Linked DNA regions of Homo sapiens: region 1 is linked to region 2. Evidence: fine-mapped expression QTL. Tissue or cell type: whole blood. Region 2 holds a variant in brackets; the other region holds the start of a gene. All regions are shown on one strand. Distances are from middle to middle.

What was found. PIP is the estimated chance that this variant, and not a neighbour inherited with it, causes the effect.
Region 1: ASXL1 starts here. The variant in region 2 is fine-mapped to the expression of ASXL1 in whole blood (TOPMed, PIP 0.91).

The regions. Positions count from the first base shown.
Region 1 is chr20:32,355,112-32,363,213 of GRCh38, forward strand. It overlaps ASXL1 (ASXL transcriptional regulator 1), which reads left to right and starts at 3,220. Exons shown (of 13, transcript NM_015338.6): 1 at 3,220-3,721. The coding sequence starts at 3,665. RefSeq lists silencers at 452-521, 3,470-3,519, 3,760-3,919.
Region 2 is chr20:32,426,323-32,434,424 of GRCh38, forward strand. ASXL1 (ASXL transcriptional regulator 1) reads left to right here. Exons shown (of 13, transcript NM_015338.6): 5 at 1,806-1,926; 6 at 2,003-2,100; 7 at 3,016-3,109; 8 at 3,579-3,731; 9 at 4,999-5,162; 10 at 5,261-5,357; 11 at 6,558-6,663; 12 at 6,962-7,595. Among named protein-coding and RNA genes, the nearest start is that of ASXL1, 72 kb to the left of the region's middle. The variant C/T (reference allele first, on the strand shown) is at 4,755.

The DNA of each region.
Region 1 (8,102 bases), 71 kb before region 2:
CAAGGCCACAGAACTGGATGGAGAAAGACTGCAGAGATTCAAACCCAGGCCTGCTGACATGCAGAGCCAATGAGAATATATTATCTTGCAGTGCAGTTTATGGGATATATGTGTCCCTTTGGGAATTCCTGGGTGTCTGCTGGTGGCCTGTTAACTTGGTTCTTGAATATGCACTTTGCTTATAACTGTGCAGTTTGAAAAGTGACTCATCCCCAAACTAGGCAGGGTTGAGTGTCTGTCCTGTTTATCTTCCACATGCCACCTGCACTAACTTCTGAAGATAATCTATAATAAAAGCACTGTGATTAAAAAACAGAAAAACACACACCAAAAATGTATAGGTTTGTCTGTTGGTGCTTCTGACAAGAAAATAAACTCATGAATCTCATTAACTTTAAAAAAATCACATCTACTTAAGGTTTAATGACTAAAGCCAACTTTCTAACATATCTGTACCGTTCTCTGAACATACTGTTTTCACACTTAACTACGATGTTGTCACTTGTTTCTGTCTGATTCTGCAAGGGCAGAGACCTTGAAATATTCAAATCTGGATTCCCCCATGGTTTGACCCAGCTGAAGTCAGGCAGTGTTCGCTGAAAGAAATAAAGGTGTTTCCATAATGCCTGTATTAGCTTTCTTTTGGGGCTGTAAGAAGTTACCACAGATTTAGTGTCATAAAACAATATTCATTTCTGTTTCACGCTTCTTGTGGGCCCGACGTCTGGATTCCATGGCTCAGCTGATTCTCTGCTTCCAGTCTCACGAGGCTGAAATCAAGGTGTCTATATTCCTTTCTAGAGAGTTGGGGAGGGGGTATAATCTGTTCCCAAGTTCATTCAGCTTGTCAGAATTCAGCTCTGTGAGGTTGTAGGACTGAAGTCCCCATTTCCTTGCTGGCTCTTGGCAGGACTTCCTCTGAGCTTTTGGAGGCTGCCTGGATTCCCTGGCTTGTGGCCACTTTCAAAGCCAGTAACAGTGGGTTGAATTCCTCTCATACTTTGAATTTAATTCCTCTGCCTCATCTCTCCAAAACATCTCTTTTGCCTCCCTTTTGTGCTTTTAAGGGTTCATGTGATTACACTGGGCTCACCCATATAATACGGAATCATCTAATTTTAAGGGCTTTATTTCCATTGGCAAAATATCTTTTGCCAAAGAATGCTGGCTGGTAATCCCAGCACTTTGGGAGGCCGAGATGGGTGGATCACCTGAGGTCAGGAGTTCAAGACCAGCCTGGCCAACATGGAGAAACCCAGTCACTACTAAAGATACAAAAATTAGCTGGGCATGGTAGCGCATGCCTGTAATCTCAGCTACTTGGGAGGCTGAGGCAGGAGGATCGCATGAACCCAGGAGGCGGAGGTTGCAGTTAGCCAAGATCACGCCACTGCACTCCAGCCTGGGTAACACAGCGAGACTCTGTCTCAAAAAATAAATAAATAAATAAATAAAAAAGCAACATATTCACAGGTTCCAGGGACTAGGACTTGGACAGTTTTGGGCAAGCGGGGAAGACATTATTCTGTCTACCACAGTACCTGTATTAAACATGTAAATTTCAGTTATTCCCTGTAGGTCAGAGGGCAGTAAAGCTACTTCAGAAGACATCGGAAAGAAGCCAAATGACTTGCCAAAGAGTACTGTATCAGCCGTAGATTGAAAAAAAAGAAGTTAAAAATCCTTTGTAAAAAATCAAGGCAAACAGTTTTTTGAGGGACAGTAGTTCCTCCTTTCTCTCAGGGTAAAGCTAGAGAGATTTTTAAGAGGTGTCTTATTCTAACTTGCAGTCTTTTCCCTTTGTAGGATTTTGCTTACCGGACTCACAAGTTTTCTGTGACCAGTATTAGAAGCAGAAAACACTGAACCCCTTGGCGTTAGAGTTTGGGCTACACCATAATGGTCTCCTATCAATACTGGCTCTCGCTACGTGTTAACATTAGGGAGTGGAGAGTGTGTTTCCTCACCCAGGGAAACCGTTTAAATGTGGCCACTGATCCTGCCTTCATAGTTTTTAAGAGCTGGCATCAATCCAACTCCGGACGGACTCTAGAAATGTTTCTGGACAACGACTGAACCTATAGTTACAGAAAACCTATGTGCTGGGCGCTCTGAATTTCATTTCAGGTTCTAAAACTAAGGCTCAGAGAGGCTAAGTATATTGCCTATTGTTTCTCAGCTGGTAATAACAGCTACCATTTATTAAACATTTGCTCTATGCCAGGCGCCATATCATACGGACCTGATAATGTCAAGATCTCCCTTCACATCCTCTTCCAATCTGTCAAGAATTGTATGTTAATTTTAATTCCAATAATGCCATGAAATACAAGACAAATGCAGATCAGAAAACTGAGGCTCAGAGAGGTTGAGTGGACAGCCAGGGAGTGACTCAGCCAAGATTCCAGTCTAGGTCCGCTGGACTCCAGGGCCTGAATTCTCTCCAGGGTACTGCCTCTAAAAACGCCCTCAGGTGCATTCTGGTCAGTATGGCCCCAGAGTCCAAGTTCTTTACACGACCCGTCAACATATCACCAAGTTCCTAAGAACGCTCTAGGCTGCTGGTGCAGGCTCTGCAAATACACAGCGGCCTGAAAGCACAGGAAGAAATGAAGAACCGTCTAAGTCCATCAGCCGTGGAATAACCGTTTTACTGGTATGAGGGTCTTTTTGTCTCATTATTATGTGGCAGTGAGTCATTTAGAGGTGACCAAAAGGGAAAGTCCTGCCTCTCGTCCCCTACGAGAAGTGTAGGTAAGAACCGTTTAGGCGAGGAGAAGCACGAAGTGGGAACTGCGAGTCGAGCTCCCCATCCTCACTCCCCACCCGCACCCGCCAGGAGGTCCTGAAGCAAAAAGCACCGAAGGGGTTAAGGGTGGCCGGGGGAGCCCAGCCACCGCCCCTTCCCAGCATCGCCTCCCAGAATCCCGCAGGCCCCCAGCCAGTTCTCGCACCTCGCGAGACTCCACCCAGCCCCTTCCCCGAACAGCGACCCGTCCCCGTTCCTAGCTGAGGTCGGTGCTAGGCGGAGGACGCGAGAGGGAGAGCGGAAGGGGGCCGCCGGGCACGCCGGGAAGTGTGGTCCACGCGCTTCACGCGGCCATATTCTTCCGGAGCGGGGGAGGCCAGAGAGGCCGTTGGGACTACGACTCCCAGGCGCCCTTTCGGTTTGTTTTTGTTCAAAAAAAAAAAACCCCACACTCCCCCTCCTCACTCTTCACACACACTCACACACACCCACGGCAGACACGCACGCACCCGGGCGCCGAAGGGAAAGCCGCGTCTCGCCCTCCCGCCCCGCCGTCGGTCCTGTCTCAGTCCCTCAGCAGAGCGGGAAAGCGGAGGCCGGAGCCGTGACCTCTGACCCCGTGGTTATGCGGAGCCGCCGCATTCCTTAGCGATCGCGGGGCAGCCGCCGCTGCCGCCGTGGGCGACTGACGCAGCGCGGGCGCGTGGAGCCGCCGCCGCCCCTCCCCCACCGCCGCTCTCGCGCCAGCCGGTCCCCGCGTGCCCGCCCCTTCTCCCCGGCCGCACCCGAGACCTCGCGCGCCGCCGCTGCCACGCGCCCCCCCCACCGCCGCCGCCGCCCCAGCCCCGCGCCACCGCCCCAGCCCGCCCAGCCCGGAGGTCCCGCGTGGAGCTGCCGCCGCCGCCGGGGAGAAGGATGAAGGACAAACAGAAGAAGAAGAAGGAGCGCACGTGGGCCGAGGCCGCGCGCCTGGTGAGGCGGACAGCCGAGGGGGGCTCCGTGGGGCCCGGGGTGGGGGGGGCTCGCCGCGCACCCCCCCACTGGGGGGGGAGGGGCAAGGCCCTGCCCACCGCGGGAGGGGGCGGGGCCATCTTCCTTTAAGAACGGGACAGCCCCGCAAGGCGAGGGGTGGGGAGCGCTCCGCCGGGATGGGATGTGGCGCCTTTTTCCGCTCGCCCTCGCGCCCCCCCCGCCCCGCGCAGCTAAATTCCGGCGGAGGGGCGAGCTGGCAGGCCGGCTCCTCCCACTCTGGGCAGCGGGGTCCCGCGTCCCCTCCCCCACTATTTGGCAGCGTCTGGGGGTCTGGGGCAGCTTCGTTCATTCACCCGGGGGAGTTGGGTTTCCGGGAAGGGTCGGAAGCTCCTCCCTCGCTTCCTGGTGGGTAATGGGGTGGTGCCTTTGACTCCGGGGGTGGAAAAGCGACCCCACATTCAAGGACGCCAATGGCATGTTGAGCTTTCCCAATCTAAACCAGGTGCGTGGAGGGAAGCAAGTGCTTACTCCCAGCTTGAACCCTGAGCAGCGGTTCTCTAACTTTAGTGTCCTGTGGGCGACACCTGGGAGGCGGTTAGGAACGCTACTCCTAGGGCCCTTCGTAAGACCTGCTGAGCCTCAGGGTCTGGGATAGAGCCTGGGAATCTGCGCTTTCACCAGCTTCCCAGGTGATTCAAACGCAGTGGCTCACGGACCCCACTTTGAGAAACGCAGACTGGGCTGTTTGCCTTCAGAAGCTGGACTGGAAATTGGTATTTTGAGGAGAACTGAATCCACTTTGCAAAGAATGTATGTTGGACAAAGACAAAGTATCTCTGTTGGGAGACGTTGTTCACTGAGGATTTAGCAAGGGAGAGCGTAACTTGAGTGTTTGAAGCCGTCTCGTTCAACCGATGGGGGTTGTGAATTTTGTGTTCAGAGCGTCAGAGGACTTGCAGGTGAAATAGCTTCCTTTTGGATTACTCCCACAAAGCTCAGACACTTTGAGACATATTCGGGTAATTATCTGCTGATACCAGTAGTAACAGGTTATACTAAGATGTCAGTTCCTAAGATCTGTCACACAGCGAGGTTGTGGTGCGGATAGCATAAGTGTCTCTTGACACTGTAGTTTATATGTAATGGTTGTAATTCAGTTTTAATGATGAGTGAAGCTCAGACTTAATTTTCTCTCTTATTTTGAAGTGAGTTTTCTGCTTCAAAGGTGTTGTGCAAAAAAAAAAAAAATAGACTGTATTGGGGGGGTTGACACAAACCTGAAGTACACCTTTTTCTTTCTCGAAGTCTGTAAAAGTTACAGATTTATAAAAACTGAAGGAATTTGGGCTACAGAATTTTCATTGGTGCTTGCTATCCTCTTCCCTAGTCATTTGTTGCCCAGGGAACAAAAATAGCAATTGTTTGTATGCTGAAGTTTTGTGCTTCAGTTTATTTTGGCCTGGCATGTGAAGTTTGAAGATTTTGAGGTTCCGAAATATTTTTTTTCTGATTGAGTCAAAATTGGAAGCTTGGGCTAGTTTTCAGGATCTTGTAGAAATTTCAGGATTTCTCTAACGGTTCTGCACCTGGAAACAAATATAGGCCTGATGGGGAGTGGGAGAGAGCTCTCGTTCTCCTCCTCGACAATGAGTTTTGTGTGTTCATTGACATTCTCCTTGGCGTTCCTGTTATGCGGGTGTTTATGACCCTGGGCACCCAAGGAAATTTGCTTGCCAGAGTTTTACTTGTTAGAGGTAGGTGAAAGTACTTTTAAGTCTTGTGTTATTTATGTCTTGACAGAATTATGAAATCTGTTTGTCTCAAAGTTCTGTTGGCTCTTACTAGTTGACTTTAGGAATTTGGGGTCCACTGTTAAGTCTCTTTAGATTCTCGAATTTACCGTGGTCTGAACTTCAACATCGAGGTTGCTATTTCTGTTTTATCATTGACTCAACTTCAAGCCAGGTTATCAGGGTAAGTTATTCCTCTTTTTCTTCTAAGGCTCTTCATTAAAAATAGTAATATGAATAGGAATTACTTTGTTTGTTTGTTTTTCGTTTGTTTGCCACCACACCCGGCTAATTTTTTATTTTTAGTAAAGATGGGGTTTTTCCATGCTGGTCAGGCTGGTCTCGAACTCGTGACCTTAGGTTATCCGCCCACCTTGGCCTCCCAAAGTGCTGGGATTACAGGCGTGAGCCACCGCGCCCAGCCTATGAGTAGGAATTACTTTGTGGTGCTGTTATACATGTGAAAAAGGATTTGCGAGACTTTGGGAGTCTGAGGTGGAATAATCACTTGAGGCTAGGAATTCGAGATGAGCCTGGGCAACATAGACCCGGTCTCTACAACAACAGCAACAAAATGAGCTGGGCATGGTGGTACACACCTGTGGTCCTAGCTACTCAGGAGGCTGAGGATAGCTTAGGCCGAGGAGTTGGAGGCTGCAGTGCCCAATGATTGATTGTACCACTGCACTCCAGCCTGGGTGATAGAGGGAGACCCTGACTCTAAAAAAATAATGAGGCTGGGCGCTGTGGCTCACGCCTGTAATCCCAGCACTTTGGGACGCCGAGGTGGGTGGATCACAGGGTCAGGAGTTCTAGACCAGCTTGGCCAACAAGGTAAAACCCAGTCTCTACTAAAAATACAAAAATTAGCCGGGTGTGGTGGTGCACGCCTGTAATCCCAGCTACTGAGGGGGCTGAGACAGGAGAATCACTTGAACTTGGGAGGTGGAGGTTGCAGAGAGCCAAGGCCATGCCACTGTCCAGCCTGGGTGACAGAGCAAGACTCGTCTCAAAAAAAAAAAAAAAAGAAAAAAAGAAAAAGGACTTGTTGAGAATGTGATATGCAATTTGAGTATCTTGTGTGTGTTTTTTGTTTTAGAATTTTCCATTTCTTTGAATGGGACTGGATGGTAGGTGAGGGGGAACTTTTTAAGAGTCCCAGGCCGGGCACGGTGGCTCACGCCTGTAATCCCAGCTCTTTGGGAGGCCGAGGCAGACGGATCACCTGAGGCCAGAAGTTCGAGACCAGCCTGGCCAACATGGTGAAACCCCGTCTCTACTAAAAATACAAAAATTAGCCAGGCATGGTGATGGTGCATGCCTGTAACCTCAGCTACTCGGGAGGCTGAGGCAGGAGAATCACTTGAACTCGGGAGGTGGAGGTTGCAGTGAACCCAGATCACACCACTGCACTCCAGCGGCGACAGTGAGACTCTGTCTCAAAAACAAAACAAAAGAAAAAACCAGTCCTCTTAATGTTTAAAAAAAGTTGCTGTAACACTGTACTGGAGAATTTGTGAGAGCGTACACTGGACTGAGAGAAACTTGACTAGGAGGGAACGTAGGACAGTTGATTAGAACACCTGAACACTTCTCTTTGGGCAGGTGAATTTGGAGTGCTTGCAATGGCAATTGTATGCACTTCCATGGGAACGCTTTCAGATTGCTCCTGACCCCACTCAGATTGGTGACTAGAGTGTTACTGGGAATCCTTTTAAAAATTGTTTTTGTAGGCTGTGCGCGGTGGCTCACGCCTGTAATCCCAGCACTTTGGGAGGCCGAGGCGGGCGGATCACGAGGTCAGGAGATCGAGACCATCCTGGCTAACACGGTGAAACCCCATCTCTACTAAAAATACAAAAAATTAGCCAGGCGTGGTGGCGAGTGCCTGTAGTCCCAGCTACTCGGGAGGCTGAGGCCGGAGAATGGCGTGAACGCGGGAGGCGGAGCTTGCAGTGAGCCGAGATCGAGCTACTGCACTCCATCCAGCCTGGGCGACAGAGCAAGACTCTGTCTCAAAAACAAACAAACAAAACAACAACAACAAAAAAACCTTTCGTAGAGGAAAGAAGATTCTTAAGAATTTCAGTATAGTGTACCCCAGGAGATTGATTTTTGCAGATGTTAATTATGCTGTTGAAAAATAGTCTTTCTTTCACACATTTTGTAGTATTGTCTTTTCTAGGTGTAAGAAGTAGACCTTATGTGGTTGAGTGGATATAAATCCTCCAACTTGTTATAAACAGTTTGTTTGGGAGAAATAGCCAAGGGGATTTCCCTTTAAATCGAGGACGCTAAATGGATTCTCCCTGGCTTCGAGAAACTCTTTGTTGTATGCTTTATCTTTTACTTTGATTCATGACTGACCAGTTCTTACATCAAACATTTTTTTCCCCTTTGAAGTAAGAGAAGAGATACTTAAAAAAAAAAATGTAGTCTAGAAAGAGACTAGGAATAGAACACTGCTGACTTGTTCTTATACCAAGAGCTGGAGGCATAAACAGTTTTAATAAAAAAGAATACTTTGTATCTTTTGATGTAACTTCCCTTTAGAGATTCTGTTTCCCCTGTCTTAAATTCTCAGGCTATTT
Region 2 (8,102 bases):
GGAGATTTGGGGTAACTTTGCCAGTGTAATAGACTTTCTTAATTCATTAAGGAGTATTTTATCTTAGTTTGCCCATGAGAGAAGAGAGATTAAATTTGTTTTATTATACCAAGAACATGGCAGTCAATAAGCATAACTAAAAATATTATTTAGCTTTTGATTCTGAAGACCATGTATGGCCAGTAAGGAAAAGAGGTAAAGATGTAGAAAACTGTTTTCTTTTTTTTCTTTCTTTTTTTTTTTTTTTTTTTTTTTTGAGATGGAGTCTTGCTCTGTCGCCAGGCTGGAGTGCAGTGGCGTAATCTCAGCTCACTGCATCCTCCACCTCCTGGGTTCAAGTGATTCCCCTGCCTTAGCCTCCCGAGTAGCTGGTACTACAGGCGCGTGCCACCACACCTGGCTAATTTTTTGTATTTTAGTAGAAACAGGGTTTCACCGTGTTGGCCAGGATGGTCTCAATCTCCTGACCTCGTGATCCACCTGCCTCAGCCTCCCAAAGTGCTGGGATTACAGGTGTGAGTGAGCCACTGCACCTGGCCTCTTTTTTATTAATTTAAGATACATGATTTTGGCTAAAACTAATGAAAATAAATTGATGAAACTTCAATGTAGTGGATCAAGAGACTCATGAAATTGATGAGTTAGATTGTTGTGGGCACCTGTTTTAAATTTATGGTGCCTTTTTAGCAGAATCATGACTTTATCAACTCTTTTTCACATACTTTTATTCAAAGAAGACATTCTCCTCCTCTGCCCCAACTTATCTTCTTCTTGTCTCCAACTGCCAGTATTCTCATCCACACTCTTTGTAGTTTTGAGGTGTGAGATAACTCCCAAGTTCTTCTTGGGAATGGGTAGAGTTTAATTCTGAGTCTACATGTCGTGAGTCTATTGGAAGAAGCTTTTCTTAGGAGGTGAAATTTGGGATGGAGTTCTCCTCTACACTCTAGCCCTGTAGCCACAATCTTTGGTTTAGATCTTTGGCATTTTTTGTTGGACATCTTTCATAGTGTCTACCTCTTCTTCCTGCCTCTAGGCTTCCCGCGGTTGCCAGATGAAATTCCGAAAACTCAAATCATTCCTGTAGTTAATATTCTTCAGTGACTCCGGAACAATCAAATTCTTGATCCCTCCACATGGGTCTTACCATCTGCCCTCGTGCCCTCTCTAGCTTCCTGCATATTGAGTTCCCCACAGCCCTAGTTTCCCTGAGTTTGGAATATTCTTTCACATTTGCTCATCCCACTATCTAGAAACTTCCTACAATCTCTCTACTGCCAACCTGTCTGTCTAGTTGCTAATTTATTTTAAAACCCAGCTTAAGCAACACATCCTTTTGGATGTGTTACTTCCCTGATCGTTATTCACCTCCATGCCGTCTTTCGCTCAACTCATTGAAGTTAGGTGCCCCTCTTCTGGGCTGCCACGGCTCTCCATGTTCACCTATGTACTGTACTTTGTATTGTAATCAGTTTAATTGACCCCCCTACTTATTTGAGCTCCTTGAGAGCAGGGCCTTGATTCCTGCTCCTTAGCACTCCACCCTCCCCAGAACTAACATGGTATAGCTTATAGGAGGCACCCTATAAATGTTTAATGAATGTTTGAATGCAAAAGTGTATCTAACTTTCTTAATGATATATTTATGAAAAGAACTTGCTGAGAAAAAGGTCAGTTAGAAAGGGTTAGGAACTTGTCAGTATTCTAAATCCCTCTTTTTCAAAAGCATACACATTTAGGAATGACTGCCTTGCTTTAAGAATTTGTAGGGTTTTGTTCACCTGAGTTGTACCTTGCTGTCACAGAAGGATGCCCTGCAGTGGTCTCGCCATCCAGCTACAGTGGAGGGAGAGGAGCCAGAGGACACGGCTGATGTGGAGAGCTGTGGGTCTAATGAAGCCAGCACTGTGAGTGGTGAAAACGATGGTAAGGACCCTTTAATGGATGGGTGAGGGAGCCACAGCAGGCACTAGGGACTAACCTTTATTTTCCTCTCTTCCAGTATCTCTTGATGAAACATCTTCGAACGCATCCTGTTCTACAGAATCTCAGAGTCGACCTCTTTCCAATCCCAGGGACAGCTACAGAGCTTCCTCACAGGTAAGGAAGAGGTAGAGCCTAGCCTGGGAGGATGAATGATGACAGGTATAAGGCAAGATCCCTCCTTCTCCTGTAGTGAGCTGTGAACATGTTCAGAGAGTGAAGAATAGAAGTCTGGTCTCCAGCTGTTAGTAGCATTTAACAGGGGGCCGCAGGAAAAGTGAACAGTAGGTTTGAGCAGAGTAAGTTTTTTCTCTTTCTTTACCTTGGCTGAGTGATTTTGTTCATTCTTTTTTTTTTTTTTTTTTTTTTTTTTTGAGATGGAGTCGCGCCTGTCGCTCAGGCTGGAGTGCAGTGGCATGATCTCCGCTTACTGCAACCTCTGCCTCTGGGGTTCAAGCAATTCTCCTGCCTCAGCCTCCCGAGTAGCTGGGATTACAGGCACGTACCACCGTGCCTGGCTAATATTTGTATTTTTAGTAGAGATAGGGTTTTGCCATGTTGGCCAGGCTAGTCTCGAATTCCTGACCTCAAGTGGTCTGTCCACCTCAGCCTCCCAAAGTGCTGGGATTACAGGTGTGAGTCACCATGCCTAGCCTGATTCTGTTCATTCTTGTAATATACACGTGAACATTCAGGGAGAAGTGTGGTTAGTGCAGAGTAGAGAGAACAGGAGATTGGGAGTGAGCAGTTTGAATGATAACCCTGCACTTACTAGCCTTGAGACTTGGGGAAAATTCCTTACCTGTAAAATGGGGATAACAGTACATTTTTGTAGCTTGGAATGATGCTTGGCACAGTGACCAGCACGTAGCTCAGTAACATTAACCAGTGCTCTTGTCAGCATTATTTGACAGATCTGGTTGAAGACGAACTTCATTTTACAAGAGCGTGAGTAGAGATAGTGTCGCCAGGGAATGCTTTTGTGGCTCTGCAGTTGACTTGGGCTCTCTTTTGTTCTCTCTTGGAACGCAGGCGAACAAACAAAAGAAAAAGACTGGGGTGATGCTGCCTCGAGTTGTCCTGACTCCTCTGAAGGTAAACGGGGCCCACGTGGAATCTGCATCAGGTATGTGTAAACTCATGGTTGTGATGCTTTTTCCTCAGGTCCTGGGGACCTGGCCTCCCTCTGTCAGCAGTTTCTGACCTAATAGTGCGATACTAGGAGAGCTGTCGGGCCACAGGCAAGAGCCCTGCCAATGGATGAGGCCTGCCATAGGTTCTAGTGCTGGGCTCTGCTGTGTGCCTTCCTCTTTGTCTCCCAGGGCAGTCGTGAGGATCCAACGGAGGATTTGATTATGCCAGTGCTTTGTAAAAGGTGTAGTGCTATACAAATAAAGATGGCAGTTTGGCACCTGTAAGGTGATATTTTAAAGCCAGACCATGAAGTGGTGGTTTCTCTCAGCCTAAGGCTGGGAGATGGAAGCATCCCAGTATTGCTGGCAGCATCTCAGGGAGAGCTGGGAGAAATGAGCTTGTCTGAGAGCCATGGGCGCGGCTTGGTGATACTTTTGACCAGTGGAATGCTGTGCCTTCAGGGTTCTCGGGCTGCCACGCCGATGGCGAGAGCGGCAGCCCGTCCAGCAGCAGCAGCGGCTCTCTGGCCCTGGGCAGCGCTGCTATTCGTGGCCAGGCCGAGGTCACCCAGGACCCTGCCCCGCTCCTGAGAGGCTTCCGGAAGCCAGCCACAGGTGAGTGGCGTGGCACTTATTTCTCTGCCTGTAAAGGGGGCCCCTGCAGGCCTAGTGAGAAGATGATGTCTTCTATTCCAATTCCTTTACCAGTTTATTTTTACTTCTTGGGTGGCCCTCTATTTTTTGTTTATTTTTACTTTGTAATTTGCTTATTTCATTTGTAGCTCTCTGCTAAACTGTGAGAACTCCTTTCAGGCAGAGATGATGCCATACTGTTTCTCGTATGTCCCTGTAGGCCTAGTCTATGCCTGCCTTGTACTGCATAGTAAGTGTTTGAGTGAGTGAAAACTGCTTCTGAGCTTCTCAGTGAAGAATTCCAACACCCCTTTTCTCTCTTCGGTAGCATGTTGCCACATTTGTTCCCAACATCTGTAGTCTGTATCAGACGCTCCCTTTTTTACAACCTAGTCAGTATGTTGAGTGGAAGCATGTGTTGAATTTTGGGGATGCAAACAAATTCAGTAGTGCTATTATCTATACCTCCCACCCCTCACCCCACCCCACCCCCATTAGGGTTATTTGCAATATTAGTATGCTCTTTGCTATTTCAGGATTTAATTCTTAATGACCCACATGCTGGTTTTTTTTGTAGATGAAACCATTAAGAAGACAAGCTTTTGCTTCTGAGAATTAGAGTAAACCTTTGCCCATGTGAGAACTAGGTTTGCTGTCTTGCTGCTTTTCCAGCTCATCAGCAGTGCTCAATCTAAGGTCTCACAGGTCTCTAGTCCTAGTGAGTTTTTCAGATAAAAGTAACATTTGCTGAGGCTTCTGTGAGAGGTATTAGCATCTCAGTTGGCTTTGAACAGTCCTTAGTACATTTCTGCATGGAGATCATCCCTCTCCAGCCCATTCACAGAAGGCTTCTGCAGATTTTTCTATAGTATACTAACTAGATTTACTTTTAGATAATTCTCATGATTTCTCCAGTTGAGCTTTGTGGAGCCTGTTCTCCAGCTTTGGAGGGAAGCTCAGAACCTGCCCCTTGCCTGATTTTCTGTGGGAAGTGTCCTTTTCAGG[C/T]TGTGACACAGCACGGTACAGAGTTTTGTCTGAGGAGATGCAACCCCAAGTGTTCTCCTGGGTTTGATGGCAATGACAGTAACCTGGAAAGAATATACAGGTTAGGATGGACTGGACAATTGAGCAGATTGTGTGCAGATAACTCCTGGGTAGCTTGGGTGCTGTCACCAAAGTTTTCCCATCAGTTGGCATTTGTTTTTTCTTTTAAAAAGCTGAAATCTATACCTTGCTTCAAAAATCATAGGTCAAATGAAGCGCAACAGAGGGGAAGAAATAGATTTTGAGACACCTGGGTCCATTCTTGTCAACACCAACCTCCGTGCCCTGATCAACTCTCGGACCTTCCATGCCTTACCATCACACTTCCAGCAGCAGCTCCTCTTCCTCCTGCCTGAAGTAGACAGACAGGTGCACATGGGCAGCCTCCCCTTTGCCTCTCTCTGGGTGGGCTTCTGTTCTCTTTTAAGTTTATTTATTAGGATTTTTTTCCCCCTTGATCCTTCTAGGTGGGGACGGATGGCCTGTTGCGTCTCAGCAGCAGTGCACTAAATAACGAGTTTTTTACCCATGCGGCTCAGAGCTGGCGGGAGCGCCTGGCTGATGGTATGTAGACTTGGTCATCTCGGACGGCTTGCGACGCACCTGTCGTGTGGTGTTGCATGTCTCCTGGTATTTAAAACCCAAGCTCGCTCTTCTCAAAGGGTTATTTAGTATAAGACAGGCTTTCCTCATTACTAATAAATGTGGTGGGTATTAATATGCCACACAGCTCTGAAGAAATAACAGGGTGTTTAGGTTTAGACTTTCACTATATTGTATGTATGTACTCATTCATCATCTCCTTTTTATCATTAAAACTATAAACACCTATTCCAGTAATCATGGCATGGTCTGGAAGGGTGGAGGAAAGTACACTGTGGAGTTGAGAAGCTCCACCATGCTCTGTCTTTTTAGGCATTGTCACTTGGAGTGATTGTTAGCTTCTATTAATTTAATTTTGTGGGGAAAGTGTTGAGAGGGCTCTAAGAACACCCCTAGGTTTGATGATTTGCTAGCAGGACTCAGCATATAGTTATATGTACAGGGCTGCGGTTTATTACAGCAGAAGAATACAAAGTAAAATCAGCAGATGGAGAGGCACATGGGGTGGGGTCCAGGGGAAACCATGTGTTGGCTTCCAAGGTCCTCTCTCAGTGGTGTCACACAGGACACATTTAATTCCCCCAGTAACAAGTTATGATAACATGTATGAAATGTCTACTAGGGAAACCTGTTAAAGACTCGGTGCCCAGGGTTTTTATCAAGGGCTGATCATGTAGGAAGCCACTGCTTGGCACATACCCAGCTTCCAGATTCCCAAAAGGAAGGCAGGTGTTCAGCATAAGCCGTATTGTTTGCATAAACAATTTAGGCACAGTGAACAACTCATATCAGTTAGGGTGGTTGGGAACCCTCCTGAAATCTAAGTTCCCAGATGTCAGCCAAGGGCTGTTCTTTTAAGTAGGCCTTTCTAAGAGTAAACAATCAGGCCTACCTACTATGTTAACTTTTTATCTACACAGGAAATATGAATGGTTCTTTTGTTTGTTGTTTTGCTTTTTCGATCAAGGAGTTGCTTGGTCTCACTTTAAGGAAGAGTGAATTTCCCTTATAGTAGATGTGTTAGCTCTGTCCCTATAAGAGCATGATGTGAGAGAGCCTTTAGAAGAGACGTGTTGTTTTAAAACTGGGAGATTCAGCTGTCCATAAGACAGACATTAATATCCCGAATGCACTTACTAGAAGAGGTTTATTTCTCCCTAGGTGAATTTACTCATGAGATGCAAGTCAGGATACGACAGGAAATGGAGAAGGAAAAGAAGGTGGAACAATGGAAAGAAAAGTTCTTTGAAGACTACTATGGACAGAAGTAAGGCAGTTGGAGCTATGAGTCCTGGTCTGGGGTTTTGAGGGGATAGAGGTAGATGGTCTCAAAATAGCATATACTTATGTGTTGGACAAGAATGTGGAGATTGCAGTGACACTTGGGTCATTTATCTTAATGCCATTCATAGTGAAGCTAACAGAAGTTTTTCCATGGTTAGATTGTGCACCACACAGATTTATTTTGTTCTGAGATATCTGTGTTTCTGGGTCCATATTATTCATAGAAATAAGAGACATGTCCACTCTGGCCTGAAACTGATGGCTGTGATTTTGATTTGCAGGCTGGGTTTGACCAAAGAAGAGTCATTGCAGCAGAACGTGGGCCAGGAGGAGGCTGAAATCAAAAGTGGCTTGTGTGTCCCAGGAGAATCAGTGCGTATACAGCGTGGTCCAGCCACCCGACAGCGAGATGGGCATTTTAAGAAACGCTCTCGGCCAGATCTCCGAACCAGAGCCAGAAGGAATCTGTACAAAAAACAGGAGTCAGAACAAGCAGGGGTTGCTAAGGATGCAAAATCTGTGGCCTCAGATGTTCCCCTCTACAAGGATGGGGAGGCTAAGACTGACCCAGCAGGGCTGAGCAGTCCCCATCTGCCAGGCACATCCTCTGCAGCACCCGACCTGGAGGGTCCCGAATTCCCAGTTGAGTCTGTGGCTTCTCGGATCCAGGCTGAGCCAGACAACTTGGCACGTGCCTCTGCATCTCCAGACAGAATTCCTAGCCTGCCTCAGGAAACTGTGGATCAGGAACCCAAGGATCAGAAGAGGAAATCCTTTGAGCAGGCGGCCTCTGCATCCTTTCCCGAAAAGAAGCCCCGGCTTGAAGATCGTCAGTCCTTTCGTAACACAATTGAAAGTGTTCACACCGAAAAGCCACAGCCCACTAAAGAGGAGCCCAAAGTCCCGCCCATCCGGGTAGGAGACTGTTTGATTCCTGGCTGCCCTGGAGCCAGGTTTTCTTTGAGGGTCATGAGATTATAGAGCCCTTAACTCTGGGGCCCTGAAGTTAATTATGTGGGAATGTAGAGCTTTTTATGAGAGGTTTGCTTGAGACAGCCTTCAAGTTTAGTGAGATAGGTTCTTTTCTTCCTCACTTTTTTGTTCACTCTGTTGAAGTTATCTTGAGAGGTCAAAATCCTTTGGGGTTTTAAAATCTTTTTAAGATAGCATTAGATTCTTTGCTATAGTGACTCACACAGTCCCACCAGAAATTAAATTTAGAAGTGTGGCATATAACAGCCCTTGAGCAGAATCTTCTCTGAATGGTGTGTTATGGCGCCATTTTACTATGATGATTTCATTGTTTTAAGGAAATTATTTGATTCTGTATGCCATGACCCTTAAGCTACTAGAATCCTAGTTTTGCTTTACAGTCCCTAGGTCAGATCACCCAGTCAGTTAAAACTATTTTCTAATTCTTTT